Homo sapiens: one gene and its partners. The protein of the gene in region 1 purifies or fractionates together with the protein of each later gene. This does not show direct contact. Each region holds a gene or a part of one and is shown in the gene's direction. Other genes may lie near its edges.

Region 1 (5,597 bases):
GCATGCAGGTGGCCACCTCACTGTATCATCGTATAGTCTTTTCTCTCTGCAGGCATCCCTCGTGTCTCTTTTTGTGTCCAAATTTCCTCTTCTTATAAAGATATCAGTCAGATTGGATTAGGGCCGACCTTAATGGTCTCATTTTAACGAAATCACCTTTAAAGGTCCTATCTCCAAATATACTCACAGTCTAAGGTACTGGGTGTTACGGATTTAACACACGAATTTGAGGGGACACAATTCAGCCTGTAAGAGCCAGTAACTTCGGCCCACTACCACATGGGCCTCTTGGTACTCACAACCTGGCAGCTTGCTTCCCCCAGAGTGAATGATCTAGGAAGGAGACCAAAAAAGCAAGAGCCTAAGGCAGAAACCACAGCCTTTCTCCAAACCTAATCTTAGAGGTAACGTATTACTTCTGCTGTATGCTATCAGTGACACAGACCAATCCTGGGATGATGCAGGAGCAGTCTACACATTGGTCTGAACACTGTGGGGGTGGAGAATCACTGGGGAACATACTGGTGCTTGTCTACCACAAACCTATATCCATAATATATGAAGAACTACTACAATTTGATAATAAAAGACGTCAATTAAAAATGGGCAAAAGATCTGAATAAACATTTCATTAAAGAAAATATCCAAATGGCCAGTTGGCAGATGAAAAGATGTTCAACATCATTAGTCATTAAAGAAATGTAAATTCTCAATGACGTACCCCTACACATCTATAATCAAATAACTGATAATACTAAGAATTGGCCGGGATGTAGAGAAATAGGAACCCTCAGCCAGTAGGAATGTAAAATGGTATAGCTACTTTGGAAAACAGTTTGGGCATTTCTTTAAAAATTAACATAAATTTATATGGCCCAGCAATTCCACTCCTAGTTATTTACTTAACGGGAAATGTAAACATGTCCACACAAAGACTTGCATATGAATGTGGAAGCAGAATTATTCGTAATAGCCCAAACTGGAAACAAGCCAAATGCCCACCAACTGGTACATGCATGAAAAAACGTGCCACATTCATACAATGCAATGTTATTCAGCAATACCGGGCATTAGGCACTTTCGCCTAATATATTTATGATGTTCTCTGAGAGAATCCTGCAGAATGCTGGGAATGGGGAATAGCCTGACGCAGGCTGTTACTTAGAAAGAATGGAAAGAAAAATTAATGCCCTCTTTCCTACTTGAAACCCATCATGATTCCCAGTTATACACTGAGTTTGTGTCTGTCACTGACAGTTGATTCCTATGCATGATCTCATATTATCTTCGCAATGACACTGGGAGATTTATATTAATAATACCATGCTCCCTAGTTTATAGCTTCAAGAAACTAAAGCTTGCAAAGGTGTAACATCAGGTGTGTCCTTTTTCATACAAGATTGGATTTAATGGTTAACACAGATAAGGGTGGGTTTTCCCATTTCCAGAGTGTAAGGGTTTCGCTTCTCTCCCTCTGCCGGTCTCCTCCACTGTTTACACCCAGTAGGGCGTGGAGGGTGGCCTAGGGTGTGGCCCAGGAGGCTTCCCTAAGGGAAGGGGGTGGTGGAAACCAGGCGGTTTGAAGCCCATCAGGATTCCCAGTTATATATCGAGTTTGTGTCCGTCACTGCTAGTTGATTTCCATGCATGATCTCATATAATCTTTGCAATGACACTGGGAGATTTATATTAATAATACCATGGTCCCTAGTTTATAGCTTTAAGAAACTAAAGCTTGGAAAGGCCTAATAACATCAGGTGTGTCCTCCATTTTCATGCAAGATTGGATTTAATGGTTAACACAGATTAGGGTGGGTTTTCCCACTTCCAGAGTGTAAGGGTTTCGCTTCTCTCCCTCTGCCGGTCTCCTACACTCTTTACACCCAGCAGGGCGTGGAGGGTGGCCCAGGGAGTGGCCCAGGAGGCTTCTCTAAGGGAAGAGGGTGGTGGAAACCAGGAAGGAGACGAGAACCCCAGCGGGCAAGTCACGCAGTTACGCTTGTTCGCCCAGAGAATCCGGCAGGGCCTCCGCAGAGCCGTAAAGAGCTCTACAAGTCGTGAAGGGGCGAGGCGCAAAAGCGTAGCTTTACGGCGATTCGAGCAGTCGCGTCAAGCAGGCTATTCCGGGTTTGTGGCTGCTTGGCTCCACACGTGGGCCGCCGTAGGTATTCCGACCGGTAATTCCTCCTATTGGTGTGCAGCAGCCACATTGAAGGATAGAGTGGCAGCAGAGGCCAAGGATCGTGAGTTGATGGAGTTTGCTGCTGAAAATGAAGGGAAGTCTGGGGGAGGTCTCCACAGCGTAGCTGAGGGGGTGCGGCTAAGTCCAGAGCCTGGCAGGGAGGGAGTAAGGGACTTAGCAGGGGCGGAGGAGTTCGGCGGCGGAGAGGAGGGGACAGGGCTGACAGGGATAAAGGAGATAGGGGATGGAGAGGAAGGAAGTGGACAAAGGCCAGAGGAAATACCGATGGACCTAACGGTAGTGAAGCAGGAAATTATAGACTGGCCAGGTACAGAAGGCAGGTTGGCTGGCCAGTGGGTAGAACAGGAGGTGGAGGATAGGCCTGAGGTGAAGGATGAGAACGCAGGCGTATTGGAGGTGAAGCAGGAGACGGATAGTAGTTTAGTGGTAAAAGAAGCGAAGGTGGGTGAACCAGAGGTAAAGGAAGAGAAGGTAAAGGAAGAGGTAATGGACTGGTCAGAAGTGAAGGAAGAGAAGGATAACTTGGAGATAAAACAGGAGGAGAAGTTTGTTGGTCAATGCATAAAAGAGGAATTGATGCATGGAGAGTGTGTAAAAGAAGAGAAGGATTTCCTGAAGAAAGAAATCGTGGATGATACAAAGGTGAAAGAAGAGCCTCCGATAAATCACCCGGTGGGCTGCAAGCGGAAACTGGCCATGTCAAGGTAGGGCATGGGGGATTCCATTTAGGGGAATAAAGCTGTGGAGTCCTCATGTCTAGAGTGAAGGAAACCACACTATCAGGAGAAGGTGGAATAATGAAAAATGAGCACAAGTTTGGGTTTCTGGAGTCAGACGGCGTTCGCGGGGGTGGGTTGGGAAGTGGAGGGTGTTGTACATGACAACACAACAAATTCAGTGAAAATACATGAAATTAGTAGTGTCCAATGGGTAATGGTCAAGTTAGGAAAGTGGAAATTCTGGGGACCAAAAGATCAGTTGGAACTGGATCTGGCTTGACTTAATATGCTCTTTACTCGGTATTCCTTTGAGAGAGAATAGAGATGAGAAAGTCTAATAAAACTAACAATGACAAAGTAGATTAAGTTAAAACTAGGCAAAAATACACTTGACCTCAATTATCAAGCTTCTTCATGGGTGCTGTGAATATTTATTGCTTTTGATTGAATTTCCTTAGTGTGTGGATCATGTGACAAAGGAAATAAGAGTAGTCAGATTCTTGAGAATATTCCCGTCTAGAACACAGTGGGCTAAATAGAAGTAACTGTAGTTTGGTTGTCAGTATCCCAGGAGCATAGAAGAGCAGTTGAGGACAGATGATGGGTTACATGGCATTTCTAGATTATTTCGATGCTCATTCTAGATTAGGCGTGGAGTTCAGGAAAAAGGGTGCTACTACTACTCTCTAAATTTCACTTGGCCTTATATTCTTTGTCTGGTGTGTGCTTTAAAAATATCTAAACATAGCTCATGAATTGGACTTCTGGATACACACACATACAATCATTACCACATTTCCAGGAATCACAAGTTAAAATATCAGTGAATAATCTCATTCCCTGATTATAGTAGAAAAAGAAGTCAAAAGCGAGATGGGTTTTAAAAATTTTAATACATTTTCCTGAGTTACATATCACTAACAACATTGGAAATGTAGTTGTTTTGGGAAGGTTTCATAGAGAAGAATTTTCAAATGATGTTCAACAGCTATCAAATATTTTATCAGTTACTTGTCACTGAGTTTATAAATTGATTGGGAATTCTAAGTTTATAAATAAATACAATTAATATTTGATAATTTAATGTTACATGTGGGCTTTTGTAGGTGTGAGACTTGTGGTACAGAAGAAGCAAAGTACAGATGTCCACGTTGTATGCGATATTCCTGCAGGTATACATGTAACTTCCTACCTTTTAACCTGTATCTGTACCTTTCTTACCCTAAAATATAAAAGTACTTCCCCTTTGTCTTTTCAGTTTGCCCTGTGTAAAGAAACACAAAGCAGAACTGACATGTAATGGAGTTCGAGATAAAACTGCATACATTTCAATACAACAGTTTACTGAAATGAATCTCCTAAGTGGTAAGCCACTTTATGCATAGCAAATTGAGGCTTCCTGGCCATTGGTATATGTCACTTGTTTATTCTTCTGTTTTGAAATTTTTAGATTATCGATTTTTGGAAGATGTGGCAAGAACAGCGGACCATATTTCTAGAGATGCTTTTTTGAAGAGACCAATAAGCAATAAATATGTAAGATTTTTTCCTAATTTCTTCCAGTTAGAAGTCCTTCAAATCAATTAGATTCTTTTTTTTTTTTTAACTTACCAAATATATTAAGTGGCTACCATGATGTAGAGCTATTCTGATTACTTAAGGATATGGCTGTGACCCAAACAAAGTCCGTCCCCTCGTGGAGTTGTATTTAGTGGGAGATATAGGAGATAAGTAGAGGAACAAATGTAATTTCAGATAGAGTTAAGTTCATATAGAAAATAAAGAAGGCTCAAGAGATTAAAGAGAGAATGAAAATGGTCTTTGTTGGGGAGAGATTGTCAGGGTACTATTTTCGATACAGTGGTCAGGAGAAGCTTCTCAAAGAGATGATGTGTAAGCAGTGATCTGAGTGCTGAGAAAGAGGCTGTCATGTGAACATTTGGAGGCAGATTATCCCAGGTAGGGACAAAAGTAAAAGGAAAGACCTGAGTCAGAAACAAGGATGTCTGGTTTGAGGAATTAAAAGATTTGCAAGGTAACTGAAGCATAGTGAGTGAGGAGGAGAGTATTGAAAATGAAGTTAGAGAAACTGGTGAGGAGTTGGGTGCAGTGGCTCATGCCTGTAATCCAAACACTTTGGGAGGCTGAGGCCAGAGCATTCCTTGAGCTCAGGAGTTCAAGACCAGCCTGGGCAACATGGTGAAAACCCGTCTCTATAAAACAATACAAAAATTAGCCAGGCGTGGTGGCGTGCCCCTGTACTCCCAGCAACTTGAGAAGCTGAGGTGGGAGGATCACCAGAGCCCAGGAAGGTCAAGGCTGCAGTGAGCCATGATTGCGCCACTACACTCCAGCCTGGGCAACAGAGTGAGACTCTGTCTCAAAAGAAAAAAGAAAAGAAACTGGTGAGGGTTTCTAATTCTAAGTGCAAATGGAAACCATGGAAGGGTTTTGAACATAAATTTGCCTTTTGAAAAACCACTCTTGCACTTTGTGAACTTTAGCGGGGCAAGAATGGAAGATTGGAAGCAGGGAGACCAATTATGCAGCTCTTCCCATGATCCTTGTGAGATAATAGTGGCTTGGGTGTACTGTTTGAATTATTGGGAAGGGATTAGATTGCGATTTTGAAGGAAGAGCTAACAAGACTTGCTATTCTAATACACTTAATTTTC
Region 2 (4,578 bases), on another chromosome or scaffold:
AGATATGCAGGTATCTCAGTGAGCAGAGTGGGGACTCTGAATAGAATGGGAAGCAGGTTTGTCCAAGCAGTTCCTAGCTGGACTTTTTCCTTGAGTTTAGTGATTTGGGAGCCCCAAATTGATTTTCCTTTCACAGCATTTATGAACTGCAGCATGAATTGTTTTATTAAGTGGCTAACCATGTTCTAGAAACCAAGAGATGTGTTTGTGTGTGTGTTTGTGTGTGTATGTGTGTGCATATGTGTGTTTGTGTGTGTTTGCATGTGTGTGCGTGTGTGTGTTTGGGTGTGTGTGTTTGTGTGTGTATATGTGTTTGTGTGTTTGCATATTTGTGTGTGCATGTGTGCGCATGCGTGTTTGTGTGTATTTGCATGTGTGTGCACGTGTATGTGCGTGTGTGTTTGCATGTGTGTGTTTGCATGTATGTGTTGGCATGTGTGTTTGCGTGTGTGTGTGCGTTTGCGTGTGTGTGTTTGCGCGCGCGCGTGTGTGTGTGTGTCTAAATGGCTTCTTTGTTACTACTATCAACTGTCATCGGCAGGTCCTTTGGCGTGGTCCTTTGGGAAATCACCAGCTTGGCAGAACAGCCTTACCAAGGCCTGTCTAATGAACAGGTGTTGAAATTTGTCATGGATGGAGGGTATCTGGATCAACCCGACAACTGTCCAGAGAGAGTGTAAGTGTAGAAAGGGTTTAAGGTGTGTGAGGTGTTCGTTGAAAGGGTATTGCCCTTTACACGTGTGCTTGGTTTTGCCTTTCCTATGTCTACACGCTCACCGTGTTTGCATGCTGTATGTTACAGGTGTGTTTGTGTTTGCATAGCTTGTCTTTACATGCATGCTTGCATTTGCATATTGCATTGTGGTACACACACTTGAGTTCCCATATGTGCTACATGTACGCTTACGTTTGCATATTATATATTTACATAGGTATTTATGTTTGCATATTATATGTTTCTGTGTGCATCAGCATATCATGGCACATGTACACCTCATTTACATATTATAAGCACACATGTTTACATATTATGTCTTTACCTGCCTGCTTGTGTTCACAAATCATATGATTTTCTTGCATATTGTATCTTTGGAAGGTTGCACAAAACACCTATAGCGGTAGTTATCTTGGGAGAAGGGAACTGGAGACCTGGGGTTGGGGGAGAGAGACCTGTTTGCCTGTTAATTTTTTTTTTTTTTTTTTTTTTTTTGAGACGGAATCTTGCTCTGTCACCCAGGCTGGAGTGCAGTGGTGCGAGCTCGGCTGACTTCAAGCTCCGCCTCCCGGGTTCACACCATTCTCTTGCCTCAGCCTCCCGAGTAGCTAGGACTACAGGCACCCACCACCGCGCCTGGCTAATTTTTTTTTTTTTTTGTATTTTTAGTAGAAATGGGGTTTCACCGTGGTCTCGATCTCCTGACCTCGTGATCCACCCACCTTGGCTTCCCAAAGTGCTGGGATTACAGCCGCCTGTTAATTCTTTATACACTTAAAATTTTGTCAGGTAGCTGGGCATGGGTGGCTCACGCCTGTAATCCCAAGCAATTTGGGAGACCGAGGTGAACGATCACCTAAGGTCAGGAGTTCAAGACCAGCCTGGCCAACATGGTGAAACCCCGCCTCTATTAAAAATATAAAAATTACCCAGGCGCGGTCGTGGGCGCCTGTAATCCCAGCTACTCAGGAGGCTGAGGCAGGAGAATTGCTTGAATCGGGGAGGCAGAGGTTGCAGTGAGCAGAGACTGCACCATTGCACTGCAGCATGGGTGACAGAGTGAGATTCTGTCTCAAAAACAAACACAGACACACAAAAATTTTGTCAGGCATACATATTATATATTCCCCCCTCCAAATATATATGCATATGTACATATATATATATTTAGATGAAGTCTCGCTGTGTCACCCAGGCTGGTAGAGCGCAGTGGCACAATCACAGCTCACTGCAACCTTGAACTCCTGGACTCAGCCTCCTGGCTCAACCTCCCAAAGTGCTGGGATTACTCTTGAGCCAGTTTTGAAATGAGGAATCCCTTTTCAAAACCATCTTTCAGGCTGGACAGGATGGCTCATGCCTGGAACCTCAGCACTTTGGGAGGTTGAGGCAGGAGGATGGCTTGAGCCCAGGAGTTCAAGGCTGCAATGAGCTATGATTGCGCCACTGCACTCCATCCTGGGTGACAAAGTGAGAAACCCTGTCTCAAAAAAAAAAAAAAGCGGCCAGGCATGGTGGCTAACACCTGTAATCCCAGCACCTTGGGAGGCCAAGGTGGGTGGATCATTTGAGCCTAGGAGTTTGAGGCCAGCCTGGGCAACATAGCAAAACCCTGTCTCTGCAAAAAATACAAAAATTAGCTAGGCATGGTGGTGCACACCTGTGGTCCCAGCTACTTGGGAGGCCAAGGTGAGAGGATTGCTCGAGCCTAGGAGGCAGAGGCTGCAGTGAGCTATGATCATGCCACTGCACTCCAGCCTGGGTGACAGAATGAGACGCTGTGTCCAAAATAAGAAGAAGAAAAGCAAAAAGAAAACACCATCTCTCAGCACCTCTAGCAATGCTATTTCTGCCTTGACAATTGTCCACACACACAGCCAGCATCTGATGTGAGCACATGTGGTCCGTGGGTGTCGGCTGCAGGGACAAGAGTGGGGGTTTGGGAGGATGCGTGGCAGGGCCCCCAGACTCACCCAGGACGTGTCCTTCTGCCCCGCAGCACTGACCTCATGCGCATGTGCTGGCAATTCAACCCCAAGATGAGGCCAACCTTCCTGGAGATTGTCAACCTGCTCAAGGACGACCTGCACCCCAGCTTTCCAGAGGTGTCGTTCTTCCACAGCGAGGAGAACAAGGCTCCCGAGAGTGAGGAGCTGGAGATGGAGTTTGAGGACATGGAGAATGTGCCCCTGGACCGTTCCTCGCACTGTCAGAGGGAGGAGGCGGGGGGCCGGGATGGAGGGTCCTCGCTGGGTTTCAAGCGGAGCTACGAGGAACACATCCCTTACACACACATGAACGGAGGCAAGAAAAACGGGCGGATTCTGACCTTGCCTCGGTCCAATCCTTCCTAACAGTGCCTACCGTGGCGGGGGCGGGCAGGGGTTCCCATTTTCGCTTTCCTCTGGTTTGAAAGCCTCTGGAAAACTCAGGATTCTCACGACTCTACCATGTCCAATGGAGTTCAGAGATCGTTCCTATACATTTCTGTTCATCTTAAGGTGGACTCGTTTGGTTACCAATTTAACTAGTCCTGCAGAGGATTTAACTGTGAACCTGGAGGGCAAGGGGTTTCCACAGTTGCTGCTCCTTTGGGGCAACGACGGTTTCAAACCAGGATTTTGTGTTTTTTCGTTCCCCCCACCCGCCCCCAGCAGATGGAAAGAAAGCACCTGTTTTTACAAATTCTTTTTTTTTTTTTTTTTTTTTGCTGGTGTCTGAGCTTCAGTATAAAAGACAAAACTTCCTGTTTGTGGAACAAAAGTTCGAAAGAAAAAACAAAACAAAAACACCCAGCCCTGTTCCAGGAGAATTTCAAGTTTTACAGGTTGAGCTTCAAGATGGTTTTTTTGGTTTTTTTTTTTTCTCTCATCCAGGCTGAAGGATTTTTTTTTTCTTTACAAAATGAGTTCCTCAAATTGACCAATAGCTGCTGCTTTCATATTTTGGATAAGGGTCTGTGGTCCCGGCGTGTGCTCACGTGTGTATGCACGTGTGTGTGTCCATTAGACACGGCTGATGTGTGTGCAAAGTATCCATGCGGAGTTGATGCTTTGGGAATTGGCTCATGAAGGTTCTTCTCAAGGGTGCGAGCTCATCCCCCTCTCTCCTTCCTTCTTATTGACTGGGAGACTGTGCTCTCGACAGATTCTTCTTGTGTCAGAAGTCTAGCCTCAGGTTTCTACCCTCCCTTCACATTGGTGGCCAAGGGAGGAGCATTTCATTTGGAGTGATTATGAATCTTTTCAAGACCAAACCAAGCTAGGACATTAAAAAAAAAAAAAGAAAAAGAAAGAAAAAACAAAATGGAAAAAGGAAAAAAAAAAAGAACTGAGATGACAGAGTTTTGAGAATATATTTGTACCATATTTAATTTTTAAAGTCTCTGGTATTAGCCTCATAAGTTATTGACTATTCCCCGGGGTTGGCGGGGAGTGGGGACATGAGTTGGTCTGCCTGTTGTGGGGCCGGGAAGGGGAGGGAGTCAGGCACAAGTGGCCTCTTTGTTTGGTCTTAAAGGCATCCATTTCTGGGAATGAAGCCATGTTCGCTGCTAACACTTTTGGATGTTGTGAGGCCACGTGGAGTGTGTGAGAGACTAGGTTTTATGGATGGTCTGGTTCAGGTACCAGGTCTGCTGGAAGGTTCCTGTTCGGATAAGCTGGTAGCTACCTAGCTCTGAGCCTGCCTTCAAGAACACCTGTGTTCATCCTCTGATTCTCTGTGTGTACCTCTTGTGGCGTTTCCTCTCCCGGGTGTGAACATCCTAACCGTTATTGTGCAAACCCAAGAACGTCAGATCCCAAAGCACAACAACCTGGATGGACTTTGGGAACATCTAAGCAATGTAAGAGAGAGGTGCA
Region 3 (4,578 bases), about 34 Mb from region 1:
CTTTGTGGAAGAAGCTTTAGTTACCTCTTCTTAAGTTAATTGCAGACTGGAAAATCCAGTTCCCATGTGAACTATATAAAACAGGAAGCCTAGTAATATCTTCAGAGACCTGGGGCCACCTGAATCAGGAATGTTGATGCTATTAAAAGATTACTCTAGTAGAGGCTGATGGTGTTCAGGTGGCCCCATGATCATCAGGTAGCATAATATTGGGGAAGTAGGATTCCGGATAAAATATAGGATGTATGGAATATTTGAGACATACTAAAAATTACTTCTTGTTTATCTAAAATTCAACTGGACATCCTCTATTTTATTTGCTAAATCTGGCACACTATCTGGAAGATAGCTCCACTTTCCTGTCTCCGTCTTCTTATCTTCTGGCCTGTAGATGTCTCTGTCCTGGAGGAGAGGTCTAGCTGAGAGCTCAGGGTCAGAGTCTAGGGTTGCATCTAGGTGCTTTGCTGGTGGCCAAGCATGTCCCCAAGGTAGGGTCAGGCAAAGCAGAAGTTGCGTATAAATCTCCATGTTGGATTCTGAGGAACTGATCATGAGGTTTTCCCTCCTGGGTGAAAGAGAAAGCTCTTCCCCAAGTGAGAGACATTTTCTCTTAGTTGTCCTTTGCCCCACCCTGTGACAGGTCTCCTGTGTCATCTGGATGATGCATGCATCAGCAATCCTTGCCACAAGGGGGCACTGTGTGACACCAACCCCCTAAATGGGCAATATATTTGCACCTGCCCACAAGGCTACAAAGGGGCTGACTGCACAGAAGATGTGGATGAATGTGCCATGGGTGAGTAAGCAGAACTTTTTCTGTTCTGTGAAGTGTCTGTTGAGCTCAGCAAATGTTTAAACTGAAGCACATTTTACTGTAGAAGCAAATTACATACACCCAAACCTCAGATTACTCTTGCTACATGGCCAGTGTTTACAAGTGACCTTTCAGCATAGCCATAACCATATATTCCATTCTGGGGATTAACTGTATGAAACGTATGTACTTGATTCTTAATATAAAGCCCTACCTCAATGACAGTTTGGGCAGAAACTGCAATAGCAGAAATGCATAACAGTTGAGGATACTCCGCTTTTATTTCTTTTTAAATTAAGGAAAAAAAAATAGAAAATTGGGAATGATATTATTGAAGGCCTGGCCCTGATGCTATAACCATCAGATGCTCTTCTATTGTTCACATTTGTGGAAACTCAACTGCTTTGATCCCAGTAATTGGTACTTGTGTCTTTCAGCCAATAGCAATCCTTGTGAGCATGCAGGAAAATGTGTGAACACGGATGGCGCCTTCCACTGTGAGTGTCTGAAGGGTTATGCAGGACCTCGTTGTGAGATGGACATCAATGAGTGCCATTCAGACCCCTGCCAGAATGATGCTACCTGTCTGGATAAGATTGGAGGCTTCACATGTCTGTGCATGCCAGGTAAATGGGCCCATCAGCATGTTGGGTCTAGAGAGGAGGGACTGTTCTGAACTTCTCTTGGTAGAGCATTCAGTATACTATTGCAGTCTGATGAGCTCTGTCAGCATTTGATTTCCTTTGCTGACTGGGGACTAGAGGAAGTCAGGGTTCACAAGCAAACCTTCCTTACTCAAAGAGTAAGGCAGTGCTAGAATTCATCAAGCTATGTAGACCAAATTAAACAAGCCTGTTATATCAAAATCCACATGTAATAGAAAATTTCAAAAATGATTTACTGTAAGAATCCTTTAAATAGCAAGTTTTCCTGATACCTTCATGTAATTACAAATACCATACCATTCCATTTATATAAATAAATTTTATCCACAATTATATAGGAAGTTTCCATTTATCTAAAGTGCAGTACATGTTTAGTTGTATTCTGGAGCTCTTCTGCATAGACCATGTCTTTAATTTTGAGAGGATACAGCCAAATCCAGCTTGAAATGATGGCTAACATTGGCTGCTCTGCCTGATTAAGGCTGCCGGCCACTCCAGCCTTGAAAGGCACTGCTGACCTTGAACTGCACCCTGAAGGCAACAACAGCTCCAGCTCAGCTTGTCTTTAGGAACATAGAGTGGGGACATTTTGGGCCTTCCACAGTCCAGAAAGTATGGATTTATCACAGAAAATGTGGAGCAGTCCTTGTTTATATGCTAGGTCTTGCCAATGTCTTTTAATGTAATCCCTTCCCGCTTTTCACAGTGACATGGGTATTTCACAGTATGCCCTGTCCTGCTTGACACTTGGAGTGACTATTTCTCATCATGGCAGAGTTCCTTTTTTCTCTGCAGAAATGTGTGTACTCGCAAAGGATGTAGTTATCATTGCAAATTTGTGCTTCCTTGTCTGGAATACACCTTTCTCTCTCTTTAAGCCACTTGTGTGGTCTGTTTTGTTTAGGTTTCAAAGGTGTGCATTGTGAATTAGAAATAAATGAATGTCAGAGCAACCCTTGTGTGAACAATGGGCAGTGTGTGGATAAAGTCAATCGTTTCCAGTGCCTGTGTCCTCCTGGTAAGTGCCCACGACCTGGCCCTGTTTTCTCTTAAAGCACAAAGCCAACTGACCACAGGGAAGAGAGCAGGGAGAGAATGTGTGTGGGCTGTGCATGAGGAAATCATTAGAGTAAGTGCTTGGTGATAGGAGTGTGTGTGTACAGAAATAGAGAATTTGTTTTAGCTACTATATCTTACAAGTCCTTTGTGGCCAAAAGTCCAAGTCTATTCTTGAATGGCCCATGACCTCTTCGTCTGTGTATATATTTCAGAATGCTCATACCTCACAGAAGCCTTAGTTGTAGGCTATTCGGGATTTTATTTTTTTCCCATGGGTCATATTCTTGAAGGCCCTCTGTGAGACTGTTATTTTTAGACATTTCACCCATGAGTTCAGAAACAGACAACACATGCCAATTTTTCCAAGATTCTCTGTCTCTCCTTTTTTTTCCTCAAGCTATTTTTGAAGATATGCCAAATTGTCCTCCATAGATTGCATCTTACCCCATTGTATCTTCAGAGAGAAGGTTTCTGTTGCCTCTGAAGCTACAGTTACTTGTTTGAGGTTCCACCTATAAATTTCACTTCCTACATCCTTCATTTAGAAGTGAAGTCTGTCTGTGAAGAAGCAATGGTAGAGACACACCACAAGTGCCTCTGATTCCCTGAGTGTCACCTGGTTATTCCAGTTACCTGTTGGGGAGAATAATAAAGCATAGGCTTATTGACCCATTGGTATAAGCCCTGCTAGTAACCTAACATCATTCTCATGGTAAAGGGAGACACAAGATAATCCTTTGACTCATGTTACCACTGTCCCTTTTTGAGGTTTCACTGGGCCAGTTTGCCAGATTGATATTGATGACTGTTCCAGTACTCCGTGTCTGAATGGGGCAAAGTGTATCGATCACCCGAATGGCTATGAATGCCAGTGTGCCACAGGTAAGATTCTTCTCACTTTTCATCTCCTTGGTAGGTCCATCTGAACAAAATAGGGTGATTGTCCCTGTCCTCTGCTAGCTGCTGTGCCAGGCCAGTCCACTCCCAGAGGCTCCTCTGTGTTTAGGAAGAGCTGTTTCTAACAAATTTTTTGCTGCTCTCTTTTTCTGCAGCACCTGCCTCCTCCACCACAACAGTGGTCTGGCCCAGATATTTCCATTTGGTATCCATGTCTTTCTGGGACAGATTTTGGCAGCAGTAAGTTTCCAGCTGGCTAGATTGACTCATTTAGGAAAGAGAAGAAATCCAGTTGAAAGCTATTTTTCACTGGGGCTTCTCAGCAGGAGGCCTGGCTCTGTGTTTCTTGAAGCAAGTGACTGAAAGAAGGCCCAGAAATTTAAAGGCTGAATGTGTACAAGTGCAGGGGTATTCTGCATAAAAGACACCAAAATAGGATTGAGAGTCAAGTGTGTAAATGACAGGAGAGAGAGCTCTCACTGGGAAAGTTTGGGTCCTCTTTGCTGACTTCTGCAACTAGAGTCAAAAACGATCTGTGCACAAATATTCTGCATTTCTGGGTTTGTAATCACATTTTGTACTTGGGATTGGATTTCAGTAAGCCAGATGTTCCCTATTACACATTTCCTTTTACACAGGCAAATATTATACAGAAAGGCTAGAAATTATTAGAAGTGAACTTCTTTATTATCTGACTGCTTGAGAAAGAAGTTATTTATGTAATTCAAGACATTAATTTTAGAGAATGGAGTCTTAAAGATTAAAGGCATCATGCATATAATTTATTTCTGATCACAGAAAAGCAAATTTAATTGTGAAAATTAATACAAAAAGTTAATATTTTAATTATTAGACCTACTTAGTTTAGGACAACTCAGATGAGCCACTTTCTTTCTTTTTGCAAATAGTTAATGCTTGTCAGAGAATCCAGATTTTGTCTTCCCCTGGCCAGATTCTTCTTGTAGAGGATAAGTTTCAAAGAGATTAAAAACCTTTAGCTCAGGTTTAAAAGTGGGGGGAGGACTCCTGGAGTCTTTTAGGGAAAGATATAATGTTTGTCTATTTACACCTCGAAGAAAGGAAATCTTACTTGTCTCTTTTTCTTTTAAATTCTCATAACAGGTTCATTCATTTTATTCAACC
Region 4 (4,578 bases), on another chromosome or scaffold:
AAAAGTGTGCAGAACATAAATGCATAGCTTGGTGGATTATTGTAAAGTAAAAACCCGTGAAACCAGCAGCTAATCAAAAAAGGGAATGTTGCCAGAACTCCAAGGTACCCTTGATGTCCACTCCCAGTTGCCATCCTTCCTTCCCCAAGTTAATGGTAGTCTTGATTTCTAACAGTACAGTTCAGTTATGCCTGGCTTTTAGTGCTGAGGTTGAGGGTGTTTCGGTGATACAGGCTATAACATTACATGGCTGACTCCTTAGAGTTCTCAGGCCATTACCATATAGAACATGTAAATGTATCTGCAGGTTCGTTTCTTGGGTATTATTAGTAGATGATGTGCCTAATGACAACCCCTTCACTCTTAGTGACTTCATTCATTCATCCATTCACTCTACCTGCCTATGTGCTGTGCCCTCAGCTCAGGTGTGGGCAATCTGCAGAGGGGTAGGCAAGGTCTGCAAGTTATGGCATTGCCGTGGGCTGCTGCTGTGCCAGTGGAAACACAGGTCACCATGGGGACAATTTGGAGGATGAGGAAGAAGAATGTGTGAAGGGGGGGGGGATACGTTTTAAACTGAGTCTGCTAGGAGGAGTTGCCTAAGCTAAAAAGAGTGGTTCAGGAAGCAGAACCGTTATATGCAAAAGCATGTAATGAACATAGAGATCACGTTCTAAAAGTTAATTTAACAATGATTCTTGGATAATGAACAAACGTTTATTAAAGAGCTAATGTGGATGATGTTTAGAATTCAGAGAGAAATTTACCTTTATTTGCAATATTCTAATGTAAGGTGCTTTGGAAATTGGTTTTGTTGTTATGGCCTTAGAAAAACTGTAGAGCAGCTGGGAATGGTAGCTCACACCTGTAATCCCAGCACTTTGGGAGGCCAAGGTGGGTGGATCACCTGAGGTCAGGAGTTCAAGACCAGTCTGGCCAACATGGTGAAACCTATCTCTACTAAAAGTACAAAAAAACCCCAAAAATTAGCCAGATGTGGTGGTGCACGCCTGTAATCCCAGCTACTTGGGAGGCTGAGGCAGGAGAATCACTTGAACCTGGGAGGCGGAGCTTGCTGTGAGCCAAGTTCGCACCATTGCATTCCAGCCTGGGTGACAGAATGAGATTCTATCTCAAAAAAAAAAAAAAAAAAAAAAGAAAAAGGGAAAGAAAGAAAGAAAGAAAATTGTAGAGCAACACATTGCAAATAATGCATGACAACTGGGTATTTCTTCTTGGAGTATGCAGTGAGAGCCAGAGGCCCATAACACCTGGCAGTTTTGAGTGTCACCCACTGTTGACATAGATACCTAATTATTTTAGTATGTTCTGCTCAGGTTTCATAGTGTCAGAGGGTGTGTAATGAGTTATTCCACTGGTTTTAAGATTTCCTTTGAGAGTCAGAAATTCAGGAAACAAGGCTACAGGAGTTTTGATAGCCACTGTTCTGGTGGAATAGAATAGTGTGGGTTCAGAGACTGGATTAAAGGCTAAAGGTAAATTTCACCCCCTTGGAAATGAAGCAGACAATTTTAAGAATTATAACTTGTCTATCTAGTTCTGGATTTGAACCTAGAAAGTTCCCTTAAAAAGTTGCATTTCTAGGCCGGGTGTGGTGGCTCACACCTATAACCCAGCACTTTGGGAGGCCGAGGAGGGTAGATCATGAGGTCAGGAGATCAAGACCATCCTGGCTAACATGGTGAAACCCTGTCCCTACCAAAAATACAAAAAAATTAGCCGGGCGTGGTGGCGGGCGCCTGTAGTCCCAGCTACTCGGGAGGCTGGAGGCTGAGGCAGGAGAATGGAGTGAACCGGGGAGGCAGAGGTTGCAGTGAGTCGAGATCGTGCCACTGCACTCCAGCCTGGGCAACAGAGCGAGACTCTATCTCAAAAAAAAAAAAAAAAAAAGTTGCATTTCTAATAGTGCCTCTAATTTACATTGATATGTTTGTATTGCCTTTTTACCCATCATGACACCCTGGAATGTACATTATTAAGGTTGATTTGGCAGTTCTGGTGACATGGAAGTTTTGGGCTCTCAGTGTGAGAGAAAAGATTCTGCTTCTCACCATGGCCCCTCTGCCACCTCTTCCAGGGCTGCGAATAAAGGAGACCAAGGAAGTTTATGAAGGTGAAGTCACAGAGCTAACTCCGTGTGAGACAGAGAATCCCATGGGAGGATATGGCAAAACCATTAGCCATGTGATCATAGGACTCAAAACAGCCAAAGGAACCAAACAGTTGAAAGTGAGTACATGTATGTGGCCTCTTTTCCCTTGACTCTCCCAGCACTGTGTGGCTTTGGGCAGGTGGTGTAACCTCTCTGCATCCCAGTTTCCTGACCTGTGCACTGCAGGTATTGATTTCTCACAGAATTGGTTGAGGATATTGTGTGTATAAAGCGGTACCTAGCATAGGGCTTGCACATAGGAGGACTCAAGGAAGATAGCTCTTTTCTTACTTACTCCTAGGAAACTCTGCATGTTAAAATGTGAGCTGTGTGGTTAAGTCAAGAAACTGCCTCTGCCATCCCATGTCCCATATTATGACCATGCATCAAATACCCTGGGCTGGGTCTGAACCTGGGCATTAATTTTTCCAGTTATCAGTGCCCATGCTCATAGAAAGAAACAGCATTGAGTAATCAAATAAGAGTTGTATAAAGATGATGGATGGGCTTCCCAGGGGCCACATGCAGAATCCTGACTGCAGTTGCTTGTGTCAGGAACCTGTGGTCGCTTCAGTGGCTGGTTCTGTTTAGTACAGGGCTTTGTGGAGAGGCCAGAATGGTGACACTGGATAGCGCTCAAAGACAGTCCTCAGCCACCTGTCCTGTAAGTCTTTAGGATGGAGGCAGTAGAGTTTCTAGGGGAAGAGCATGAGTTTTGGAGTCTAAGTCCTTAAGGAATCCCTGGCTTTGTTACTTACAACTGTGTGGCATTAATCTCTGAGTAGTAGTTTCTTTATTTGTTGAATGGGAATAATAATTGCCTGTCTTTCAGGGTTATGGCTTTGGGTGTGGCACCTAGTTACCTAATGAATGATAGCTGTTAATGTTATCGTGAGAGCCTTCACTTGGAGAAATGGAGCAGTCTGGATTTTAGGCTTTGCCTTATTATTATTAATAAATATTATCATTATAGCTCTCATTTATTGTATGTGTCAGGCCTTGGACTAAGTGCTTCAACAAACATTTATTGTCATTCATAACTTTATATGTGTATATGTTTGCGTGTGTGTATGTGTGTATAGTTTTCCTCATGTTAACAGATGAAGGCTCATAAAGAGGTTACATGGTTATCCTGGGATCATCCAGCCAGTCATGTGGCAGAGCTGACCCTCTGAGTCCTAACCGTTGTACTGTCTGCCCACCAGCTTGCTGTGTGACCTTTGGAAGTCAGTTGAGCTCTCTGGGACTCAGTTTTCTCATCTATAAACTGCAGGAGATTGACCATATAATTTCTCCATTTTTATTCTGTTCTACGATTTTATGGTTCTTTGATTCTCTGAGGTTGTTTCTTGGTCACTGCTTTATGGAGATCATAAAAATGTCACTTCTTCAAAGGGCCATTTTTCTTTTTCCTAACAGGGTTTCCATCTCAGGAACTTGCCTCTGCAAATATCTCTTTTATACCTACCCCTCGTCACTTCCATTCTGAATTAATTAGATTTCTCAGTAGCATCTGCCACCTTTCCAGTAATTACATCTTCAGTCAATTCATTTGGGAAATTAACCGATATAAAAATGCTTGAGGCAAAAAAGAAGTATATTCTCCAATGTAGGACAGATAAAATAAGGCGTACAGTTTAAATTTCAGCTATTTGTAACACTGCTTTGTACAGTTTCTTTACAAAAATAATGTAGAGGAGAAGATGAAATTTTTCTTCCAAAATGAATACTTTTAGGTATTTTTAGAATATGTACAAGATATTTGGATAGAAGGTGCTCAAATACTTGGTGGATATTCAAGTCTGAAGGAGTCTTCTGAGTTCTAGCAACGAGAATGCCATTAGTACTCATGACCCCTTCCTGCCAGGCCTTACCTGGGGGCCTCACCCACTTTTGTCCTTAGGCGCACAGACTCACAGCAGTTCTGCCAGGGTCTGCCGTCCCCACCCAGCTAAGGAGAGGCAGAACCCTGGGTTTGCTGCTGTGGTGGTAGTTTTTTAAAAGCTTTATTCAGATAGCATTTTAAATAAAACTCACCCATTTTAAGTATACAATTCCAGGAATTTTAATTTATTTTCACAGTTGTACAATCACCACAATCTTAATTTCAGAACATTTTCATCGCCCCAAAAAGAATCCTCCTACTCATTTACAGTCATTCCCCATTCCAACTATAGCCCTCGGCAACTACTAATCTACTTTCGGTTGCCTTCTTTTGGACATTTCATATAAATGGAACATACAGTGTATGTCTTTTTTTGTATCTGGCTTCTTTCACCAAGTCCTGGGTTTTCACTTTTTAATTTTGTTTGGGCAAAGCCCAAGTTTTTTTTCCACCATAGCTACATTGTATAACATAGATCTCCATGAAGACCTCGAGAAACTTGTGTTTAACTATAGAATCC

The links.
Region 2: the proteins of ZNHIT6 (region 1) and INSR purify together in Homo sapiens (co-immunoprecipitation; one large-scale study listed by IntAct). This does not show direct contact.
Region 3: the proteins of ZNHIT6 (region 1) and NOTCH2 purify together in Homo sapiens (co-immunoprecipitation; one large-scale study listed by IntAct). This does not show direct contact.
Region 4: the proteins of ZNHIT6 (region 1) and RUVBL1 purify together in Homo sapiens (co-immunoprecipitation; 4 studies listed by BioGRID and IntAct, with this or other methods). This does not show direct contact.

Annotation. Positions count from the first base shown.
Region 1 is NC_000001.11:85,704,939-85,710,535, reverse strand, and holds the start of ZNHIT6 (box C/D snoRNA protein 1), read left to right. Parts: upstream 1-2,102; 5' UTR 2,103-2,251; coding exon 2,252-2,907; intron 2,908-4,028; coding exon 4,029-4,094; intron 4,095-4,180; coding exon 4,181-4,287; intron 4,288-4,372; coding exon 4,373-4,458; intron 4,459-5,597. UniProt on the Homo sapiens protein: Required for box C/D snoRNAs accumulation involved in snoRNA processing, snoRNA transport to the nucleolus and ribosome biogenesis.
Region 2 is NC_000019.10:7,115,547-7,120,124, reverse strand, and holds part of INSR (insulin receptor isoform Long preproprotein), read left to right. Parts: intron 1-541; coding exon 542-676; intron 677-2,714; coding exon 2,715-3,069; 3' UTR 3,070-4,578. UniProt on the Homo sapiens protein: Receptor tyrosine kinase which mediates the pleiotropic actions of insulin.
Region 3 is NC_000001.11:119,964,295-119,968,872, reverse strand, and holds part of NOTCH2 (neurogenic locus notch homolog protein 2 isoform 1 preproprotein), read left to right. Parts: intron 1-640; coding exon 641-796; intron 797-1,251; coding exon 1,252-1,440; intron 1,441-2,383; coding exon 2,384-2,497; intron 2,498-3,306; coding exon 3,307-3,420; intron 3,421-4,578. UniProt on the Homo sapiens protein: Functions as a receptor for membrane-bound ligands Jagged-1 (JAG1), Jagged-2 (JAG2) and Delta-1 (DLL1) to regulate cell-fate determination.
Region 4 is NC_000003.12:128,102,445-128,107,022, reverse strand, and holds part of RUVBL1 (ruvB-like 1), read left to right. Parts: intron 1-2,098; coding exon 2,099-2,250; intron 2,251-4,578. UniProt on the Homo sapiens protein: Possesses single-stranded DNA-stimulated ATPase and ATP-dependent DNA helicase (3' to 5') activity; hexamerization is thought to be critical for ATP hydrolysis and adjacent subunits in the ring-like structure contribute to the ATPase activity.